Linked DNA regions of Homo sapiens: region 1 is linked to region 2. A link means that fine-mapping ties the variant in region 2 to the expression of a gene that starts in the linked region. Tissue or cell type: whole blood. Region 2 holds a variant in brackets; the other region holds the start of a gene. All regions are shown on one strand. Distances are between the middles of the regions.

The links. PIP is the estimated chance that this variant, and not a neighbour inherited with it, causes the effect.
Region 1: it holds the start of LIPT2-AS1, and the variant in region 2 is fine-mapped to the expression of LIPT2-AS1 in whole blood (INTERVAL, PIP above 0.99).

What each region holds. Positions count from the first base shown.
Region 1 is chr11:74,490,186-74,495,292 of GRCh38, forward strand. LIPT2-AS1 (LIPT2 antisense RNA 1) reads left to right here and starts at 3,195. Exons shown (of 2, transcript NR_171028.1): 1 at 3,195-3,788. LIPT2 (lipoyl(octanoyl) transferase 2) reads right to left here and starts at 3,539. Exons shown (of 2, transcript NM_001144869.3): 1 at 3,053-3,539; 2 at 334-2,179. The coding sequence starts at 3,518. The coding sequence ends at 1,950. RefSeq lists silencers at 3,305-3,414, 3,525-3,774.
Region 2 is chr11:74,545,967-74,551,169 of GRCh38, forward strand. No RefSeq gene overlaps it. Among named protein-coding and RNA genes, the nearest start is that of POLD3, 44 kb to the right of the region's middle. The variant TG/T (reference allele first, on the strand shown) is at 3,085.

The sequences.
Region 1 (5,107 bases), 56 kb before region 2:
CCTTGCTTTCATCTCTTTACAATGAGGGGGTAGGAATATACCTCTAAAGTCCTTTTCAGCTTGAATAATTGATATAAATTATTTGCATTAAAAAAAATCAGACCTCAGATGTAGGAGGATTCACCTTTCTTCCTAGAAGCCAGTGAGACCACAGAACCCTGGGAACTCAAAAGGACTTTAGATGTGAGAATGGTCAGTCCTCATGGGACCAATGAGCACTTTTAAAATGTAGCTAGTCCAAAATGAGGTGTGCTATAAGTGTAAAATACACACTATATTTTGAAGACTCAGCATGAGAAAAAGAATATGAAATATCTCAAGAAAACATTTATATTGCTTTATATTGATATTTTTATATATTGGGTTAATTAAAATATTAAAATTAACATCATAGACCAGGCATGGTGGCTCACACCTGTAATTCCAGCACTTTGTGAGGCTGAGGCAGAAGGATCCCTTGAGCCCAGGAGTCTGAGACCAGCTTGGGCAACATAGCAAAGCCTCATTTCTTAAAAAAAATAAAAATAAAATAAAATAAAAATAACATCACCCATTTCTTTTACCTTTTTAACATGGATCCTAGAAAATGTCAAATTACAATGTGGCTTGCATTGTATTTCTATTGAACAGCACTGGTTTAAGGAGAAACTGAAGACCAGAGAGTAAATGACTTTTCCACAGAGCCAGAACTGGAACCAGGGTCCCCTGACTTCTCATTCGAGGCTCTTTCCACTCTTAATAGGCTGTGGTGGCCATTCTTCAAGATGGCCCCTAATAATCCTCACCTTCTGTTGCCCTAGTGCAGTCCCTTCCACACTGAACAGGGCTCATCTGTTAGAAGACTACAGAAATGCCTGTGTGACTTCTGAGGCTGGGTCATAAAAAACATTGTGGCTTCCAGCTTGTCTCTCTTTGGCATGACTTGCTCTAGGGGAAGCCAGTTGCCCTGTCATGAGAACAATTAAGCAACCCTATAGGGAGGTCCACACGGTAAGGAACTGAGGCCTCTTGTCAGCAACCATAACCAACCACGCAAGTGAATGCACCATATGGAGCGCTGATCCTCCAGCCCAGCCAAGCCTTTGAATAAGTGCAGTTCCAGCTGACATCTTAACTGCAAGTTCGTGTGAGACCCTAACCTAGAAACACCCAGCTAAGCTTCCCCCAAATTCCTGACCCACAAACGAGATAATTAATGTTTACTGTTAAGTCACTAAGTTTTGATGATTTGTTACACAGCAACAGATAATACGCAGCCTTACAAATTTAGAGGTCTCATATAAGAAAAACTCACTTCTATCTTTGGCATTTGTACAGTGTGAGAAATTATTCTTATCCTTCCTCCAGTCTTTGGCCTAGCTCAGGGTAACCCAACTAAAAACTGCTAAATTATCAAACTTGGGGAATCAAACCCAGGAAGGTAAGATCCCATTTTATTCTTAGAAGGTTCTTCCCTTTTCCCTTTATTGCAGAAAGAACCCAGGTCTCTTGAGAATGAAAAAGCACTACATCACATCACCTTCACCTGGGCCATTCAGAGATTTGATTCCCACAAAATCAAAGGAACTAGAGCCCAGAATTGCTCAGTTAGACACAGTATTGAGGAAGCAACAATTGAGAAATGACAATCTATGACATCAACAATCGAGAAATAACAATCTATGACATCTGAATTTCTCTGAGACACTGCTGTCAATAGCAGTGCTAATGTTTTATATAGCATGTGTTGCTTTTCACAGTATTGTCACATCTAGTATCTCTGAGGTAGGTGGGGAAGATATAAATAAAACAGGATACATATGAAAATAGTGGCTCAGAGCTCATGGTATGTCCTTAGTTTCATGATCAGTGAATGACAGGCCAGGTCTAAAATCTGGGTTTCAGTAGGTGACTCAAGTCAGACTTCATGCTTCCCAAGGCAGGAGCATCCTGGCTGTTATGAGTACTCTTCAGTTGGGGCTGTCCTCTGAGATCAGTGTGCACTTGTAGATCTCCTTAAAGGCCACAAGGAAAGGTGGCATTACTTCTTCCACGGTGACGTGCCTCTGGAGCTCCTTACTCAAGGAAGTGACGCCTGTCCCAACCAGTCCACAGGGCACGATGTGCTCAAACCACGTGAGGTCGGTAGAGCAGTTGAGAGCCAGGCCGTGGGATGTGATGTGCCTTCCACAGCGGACTCCTGCAAGGCAAGCCAAAGGGTCTTAGAGTAGATACCCTCCACTCTCCGGGCTTTGGTGTCCCTCTCAGGGCGATGAGAAAACTGGATTAGATCACCGGTTTTCAAATTTTGTTTCTGGAGAAACAAGGGATTGTACTCAGATGGGAAAAGGAAACAAATGAAAGGAAGGGGTGCGTGGCTTCAAGCAGCTGCACTCATCATGAGGATTCCAGGAAATGTCTTTTAACAGATTCCAATACTTAAAAAAAAAAAAGCTTGGGGACAGGCGCAGTGGCTCACGCCTGTAATCCCAGCATTTTGGGAGGCCGAGGCGGGCGGATCACGAGGTCAGGAGATCGTGACCATCCTGGCTAACACGGTGAAACCCCATCTCTACTAAAAATACAAAAAATTAGCCGGGCTGGTGGTGGGCGCCTGTAGCCCCAGCTACTCTGGAGGCTGAGGCAGGAGAATGGCGTGAACCCGGGAGGCGGAGCTTGCAGTGGGCCGAGATTGCGCCACTGCACTCCAGCCTGGGTGACAAAGCGAGACTCTGTCTCAAAAAAAAAAAAAAAAAAAAGTTTGAAAATTAGCACCCTTATTTGCCATGACATTGTCATTCGCAGGACGTAACCTGGCAATTCACTTCTCTTGTCTCTCCCTTAACAGAAATGCGTGTTGGACTAGATGTGAGGAGCCTTCTGCTTCTGAATATACGATATCTGAAAAGGGGCTTAAAAACTCAAACGCAGCGGGTAGCTGTGATTCAAAACCCGCGCTAGATACGCCTCCTCCCGGCCCTCACCTCCGTTGGTCCAGCCCCGTCAGACCCCGCCCCCAGGCCTCAAGCTCCGACCTCGGCTCTCAGGTACCGCCCTGCTCCGCGGCGCTCACCGATCGCGCAGATCTTGCGATCGTCTAGCCAGACGCCAGTGTAGGGCGGGGGCCGCGCGCGGGCGTCCTGCAGGCCCTGGAGCTCGCACAGGCGCACGGCGCACGCCTCCAGCGACGCTACGTGCATGCGCAAGCGCAGGCCGAGACGCCGCAGGTCGAGTACCGGGTGGCAAAGCAGCTGGCCCGGGCCGTGGAAGGTGGCCAGGCCACCGCGGCCTGTGACGCGCACCTCGGCGCCCAAGGCCCGTAGCCGCGCAGTTTCCTCGGGCGTCAGGCCGCCGCGCAGCCCGGCCGTATACACGGGCCCCGCGGGCTCGCAGAGCAGGAGCGCGCCCGCCTCAGTCCCCGACGGGGCCTCAATGCCTGGCTCGGCCTGCAGCCGCCGCAGCCAGCGGTCCTGCAGCCCCAGTAGCTCGGCGTACGGCACCCGACCCAGGCGCACCAACCGAACGGCGGGTTGCCGCATCGTGCCCACCGTTGCGTCCGCGGGGCCCCGCCCTCTCCGTGGGCCTGGGGGCGTGGCCTGAGGGGCGGGGACTCGGGGGCACACCCCGAGCCGCAGCTCCCAGGTGCGTGTTAAAAGCTGGAGGGGGGATATGTGATCCCAGGACCAAAAGCGCGGGGCCAGACTCATCGGTTCATTCAACAACCAGTATTTAGTGCCTGCTGTGTTCTGCAGGCCCTGCCATAGGCGCTTGATACAGCGGTGCATAGCGTATGAGAAAGATCTGTCCTGGTAAGCTTACATTCTTACAGCAGACGATAAGTATTTTAAGTGTTAAGTAAATAAGGTTATTTCACGTATAAGGTGTTAAATGCTATGAAAAGAAAAATAAAACAGGGTAACGTGGTGTGTCCTGTGTTGAGCCCCTGGGGGACGCAAGAGGGAGATTAGCTTGCCTACAAGGTTATTGGTGGAGGTAGGGAGAACTTAAAGATCAGCACCTGTAAGAAAGTGAAGGAAGCAGGAATTTGTAGGCAGAGGAAGAAGTTGGCCTGCAAAACAGTTGCAGCAGAGGCCTTGACCAATCCCAAGGCATGCTTGGAGCCTAGGATGACCCTTCAGAGTAGTTCCACATTAAAGCAAGGGGGCCAGAAACTCTTATCCTTGCATTGACCAGTCATGGATACAGGCTACACCTGGGGAGGAGCTGTGATTTTTTTTTTTTTTTTTTTTTTGGCAAGACTGCTTCCCTCGGTGGAGGGCGGCCCCCAGAGAAGGACTCAGTTGTGTATCATCAGTAACCAACTCCAGAAGCTGAGGGAATGACTGTCTAGGCCCTGAGGGGGTGTCTGGACCACAACATCAGCTATGTTGCAGTTAGAGTATCATTTAAACAAGTCTGAATTCAATGAATTTTTACTGAGGACTTTTCAGACACCATAGGTGTCTGAAAAACATTTCATAAACATAGACATAAAGATCCTAAGCAAATATTAGCAAATCAAATCCAGCAATTTATAAAAGGATTAATACATCATGATGAAGTAGGGTTTATCCCGGGAATGCAAGGTTGGTTTTGCATTCTGAAATCAAACAATGTAATTTACCTTAAAAGAGAAAAGCCTTCATTGGAAGAAATAATAAAAATTTTTTTTAAAGAAAAGCTATGATTATGTTAAAAAATACAGATAAATCTATTGGCAAAAATAAACACCTCTTCTGACCAAAATACTTAGCAATCTAGGAATAGAAGAGAAATTTTCCAGTCTGATGAAGGGTTCAAATTATCAATCAGGGTTTGGACAAGAGAAATCACATATGTACTATTTTAATTAAATGTTTTATTTGAGAAAATTGGACACTCATATGCAGTTGTAAGGAATAATATGGACAGATTATATGTACCCTTTACCCAGCTTCCCCCAATGGAAACACCTTGCAAAACTGTAGTACAATATCACAACCAGGATACTGACATTGATAAAGTCAAGATGCAGAACATTTTCATCACCACAAGGATCCCTCATGTTGCTCTTTGTAGTTACACTGCTTCTTAATTCCTGGCAAACGTCTGTGTTGTATAGATGGAATCATACAGAGTGCAACCTTTT
Region 2 (5,203 bases):
TTTTTTAGACATGGAGGGGAATTCACTAGCTGGTTCAATGTATTCAGCATTTGGGAGGTATAGGAGAAACTAACTGTTTCTATTATGGAAATCGAGTGACTATAATGGAATTGAGTGACTATTGCTAAATTCATGGATATGTTAGAAAAAGACAATAAAAAGCTGCAGGCATTTAACAGGCAATGAAAGCCAAATGTGAAAGCTTACAAAGAGGCTTTCAATTCCTACAGCAAGAAGGCAGAAAAAGCTGAAGACCTGAGCTGGGAATTAATACAGCCATCAAGCTCCAGAGAAAATTAAATGACCACGATAGGTCCAATACGCTAAGGTTAGTAGAACTCTGGCACTTAGGATGGGGACATGTGGGTATATTTTGAACTCCCAGACTCCTCTAAATCCTCTGAGCATTCAGAAGTTGTGCCCTTCTCCTCTTAAGAGCTAGCACCCCCACCTCCCTCGCTTGTTTGAAGGCAATGCAGAGAACTCAGACCCTCAAGATAAAATGTGCCTCCCTCATGTTGTGCCAAACCCCTATCAACTCCAGTGGGGATGGCACCAGGTTCAAGAGGCCAAAAAAGAGACCCAGAGCCAGCAAATGAGACATGGGGTTTTACTGGGGGCTTACATACAGGGGAGAGTCCAGCAGCGGCGGGCTGGACAAGAGAACAGGTCCAGTGGTGGTGAACAGGTCCAGTGGTGGTAGGCTGGGCGGGAGAATTGCAGCCGCTTGCAAAAGGCCTGCAGTTTCTATAGCATGTTCACTTAGTACCCTCCCCCTAACAACCTCCACCTGACAACCTTCATTTAACCCTAAACCCAATGCTTTGATCCCCTGTACAGCCCGTGTTCCACGGGATGCGCCAGAGGCTCAAATGTTCCTCATTGACAAGAAACGAGTCTGTGGTTTGGCCACTTCCCAATTCCCTAGCTCAGAACACACATTCAGGTGTGTTTGCCATACAGGGTCATTCTCAGGGTAAGCTTAAGTTATTGCTGTCAGGTGTTCTTACCATACACCTCTGGATCTGCCCCACCTCTGTTGCTAACCACAAGGACTACAACTAGAGTTAAGTCATGGGCCGGGCCACAGTGGCTCATGCCCATAATCCCAGAGCTTTGGGAGGCAGAGGCAGGAGAATTGCTTGAGGCCAGGGGTTTGAGACCAGCCTGCACAACATAATGAGACCTTCATCTCTGCAAAAAAAATAATAAATAAATAAAATAAAATAAAATTACCTGAGCATGGTGATGCACCTCTGTAGCCCTAACTACTTGAGAGGCTGAGGTGGAAGGATCCCTTGAGCCGTGGAGTTTGAGGCTGCAGTGAGCTATTATTGCACCACTGCACTCCAGCCTGTGTGACAGAGAAAGACCTGATCTCTTTAAAAACAAACAAACAAAAAACCCAGAAATTTATTCTCACACGGTTCTGTTGGTCAGAAATCTGAAATCATTTTCACTCAGCCAAAATTAAGGTGTCAGGCCAAGGTCATATGTAATGCGTGTGATTACATTTAGGGCCCACCCAGGATAATCTCCTCACTGCAAGATCCTTAACTTAATTACACCTGCAAAGACACTGTTTCCATATAAAATAACATTTACAGGTTTCAAGGATTGGGATCTAACATCTTTAGCGGCTACTAGTCAACCTACTACAGGGGCAAATCTGGGTTTTCTCTCTTGTCTCAACAAGGAAGTGTGGTCTTTGGAAAGGAGTAAGGAGACAGAGACTTTGTTTGCACAGTGACACAATGAAGAAGTTGTGTTTTGGGTGGTAGGTATTTACTTATTTATTTATTTAGAAATAGAGTTTCACAGCCTGGCGCGGTGGTTCACGCCTGTAATCCCAGCACTTTGGGAGGCCAACGTGGGTGGATCAGGAGGTCAGGAAATTGAGACCATCCTGGTTAACACGGTGAAACCCTATCTCTACTAAAAATGCAAAAAATTAGCCGGGTGTGGTGGCGGGTGCCTGTAGTCCCAGCTACTCGGAAGGCTGAGGCAGGAGAATGGTGTGAACCTGGGAGGCGGCGCTTGCAGTGAGCCGAGATGGTGCCACTGCACTCCAGCCTGGGTGACAGAGCGAGACTCCGTCTCAAAACAAAACAAAAAAACGAAATGGAGTTTCACTCTTTCACCCAGGCTGGAGTGAAGTCATGCCATCTCAGCTCACTGCAACTTCTGCCTCCTGGGTTCAAGTGATTCTTATGCCTCAGCCTCCCAAGTAGCTGGGATTACAAGTATGCACCACCATGCCTGGCTAATTTTTGTATTTTTAGTAGGGACGGGGTTTCTCTATGTTGGCCAGGCTGGTCTTGAACTTCTGACCTCAGGTGATCTGCCCGCCTCAGCCTCCCAAAGTGCTGGGATTACAGGCGTGAGCCACCACACCCGACCAGTAGTTAATATTTTAAAAGAAGATTTGGTTTGTCATGTGATGTTTCATTCTGCAGGAGCTGAAGGACGCAAGAGTCTCCAAATGATGTGTAGCTTTTCAAAGATCTCGTGCTTCCTCTTCCATGATGAGGGAGTTCTACAAGGAGGTAGAAGTTTAAAGAGACCAAGAAAATGGTTAGGGAGAAGAGGGAGGGAGACCAAAGAGAGGCAGAGAGAGAGAAAATGCAATTGGTCAAATGTTTCCTGGGACTGATCTGCATTCACACACCCTCCCAGTTGATCTAGGCATTGTGTTTATTCTTCCCAGGTGATGGAGAGGTGTTCCTGCGGGTGACTGTAATTACAGGCTATAGGAGGTGGGGTACAGATAGTCAGAGATTGTTAAAATCAGCTCTGTCCATTCAGCAGAGAGGATAGTTCACACATGCTAATATTTCATGCACCAGAGACTTCACTAGATGCTGGTGCTTAAGCTAGGCTGTGTAGGCTGAGAAGTATTCAGACAAGTTATGAGAAGAGTGTTCAGGCAGGGCCAGTGGCAGAGGTAAGGAAAATCAGCCAGGCGCGGTGGCTCACACCTGTAATCACAACACTTTGGGAGGCCTGAGGTCAGGAGTTCGAGACCAGCCTGGCCAACATGGCAAAACCGTCTTTACTAAAAATACAAAAATTAGCCAGGCACCG[TG/T]GGGGGGCGCCTGTAATCCCAGCTACTTGGGAGGCTGAGGCAGGGGAATTGCTTGAGCCCTGGAGGCAGAGGTTGCAGTGAGCTGAGAACACACCACTGCACTCCAGCCTGGGCTACAGAGTGAGACTCCGTTTCAAAAAAGAAGTAAGGAATCTCAGAGGTACTAGGACTCTTGGAGAAAGACATTTCTAGAGCATAGCACTAGTGGGGGGCAGTGGATTAATCTACCCTTTCAGCCTGATAATCTAGCCCCAAGCACTATTAGACACATTACTTAAGGAAGCAGTTAATAACTTCACACAGCATTTCAACTTGGTGGGTCAGTCCTAAGTGTGAATTTTGTTTTTCTTCACTGACTCTAACACAGTTATTGTCTTTTTGGTCCAATATTATCAAATTTCATTACCTTGTTAATCGCCAGATTTTTTTTTTCATTTTTAAATAAGTGAAGCATATGTGGAATTCTAAAGAACTCAGCTCATTTATTTCCTTTGAAAAATCTTATTCCTGCACCAATAAACATCATTATAATGCACCCAGCCAATTTCATTTCAGAACAAGTTGGTACATTACTCAAGTATTGATCACTTGCTTTGTCATCTTATCAGTTAATTATTGTTATGGTTACAAGTTCCTCAGACTTGAGGCTTGGTGATATTTTCTCTTTCTTCTGGATCAGCACATGGAGTACAGCACACAGCCCATAATAGGCCATTAATAAGTGTTAATTGATATTTCATACCTGAGTTGGGCCAAAGCATCAAATTCTTTATGTCAAGGTACAGTTTTAACCTAAATGTAATAATAATAGTATAATAAGCCTTAACTTTAGCCTCAAAGTCATTAAAAATCTAACTTTTTGGAACACTCATTTTTAGCTTATTATCTTTTTTTGTAACAAATGCCATTGTCAGAGGAGTGTGAACCAGAGCAACTCCATCTTAAATAGGGGCTGGGTAAAATAAAGCTGAAGCCTACTGGGCTGCATTCCCAGACTGTTAGGCATTCTAAGTCACAGAATGAGATAGGAGGTCGGCACAAAATACAGGTCATAAAGACCTTGCTAATAAAACGGGTTGCCAGTAAAGAAGCCAGCCAAAACCCATGAAAACCAAGATGGCGACAAGAGTAACCTCTGGTCGTCCTCACTGCTACACTCCCAACAGCGCTGTCACAGTTTATAAATGCCATTGGCAACGTCAAGAAGTTACCCTATATGGTCTAAAAAGGGAAGGTATGAATAATCCACTCCTTGTTTAGCATATAAGCAAAAAATAACCATAAAAATGGACAACCAGCAGCCCTTGGGGCTTCTCTGTCTATAAAGTAGCCATTCGTTATTCCTTTACTTTCCTAGTAAACTTGCTTTTACTTTATAAACTCACCCTGAATTATTTCTTGCTTGAGATCCAAGAACCCTCTCTTGGGGTCTGGATTGGGACCCCTTCCCTGTAACACAATGACTCATTTTGTTTATAATATAGGCAAAATTATAGAATGCTGGAATTGTGAGGAATTTTAGGGATAATCTAGCCTAAAGCTCTCATTTTATACCACGGGAAACTGAGGACCAAAGACATAAAGTAAAAGTTGGGTGTGGTGGGTCAGATCTATAATCTGGGCTTGAGGCCACGAGACCAGCCTAGGCAAGAGAACCTGTCTCTTGAAGAATTTTTTTTTTAATTTTAATTAGCCAGACCTGGTAGCATGACTGCAGTGCCAGCTACTTGGGAGGCTGAGGTAGGGGGATCACTTGAGATCAGTAGATCGAGGCTGCAGTGAGCTGCGATCATGCCACTGCACTCCAGCCTGGGCGACAGAGGAGACTCTGACTCAAAAAAAAAGAAGTGACGTGCCCAGGGTCATACAATGGGGATCTGAGCTGGAGGAAGGGGCAGGTCAGCTGAGCAGCTGACCAAGACCCCAGTTTATAACAGATGCCAAAACATCCCTGGGTACCAAAGTATTGCTAGAAATTTAACAAGGTGGGCAAAATTGTGTATATCAGAACTCTTCTGGGACAGAGTACTCTAGTTGTTGTAAGGAATACTGTGATGAATAATGAAAGATGAGAATGAACAACAATGAATGTTCACTCAGCAGTTTCCTAAGGAGATG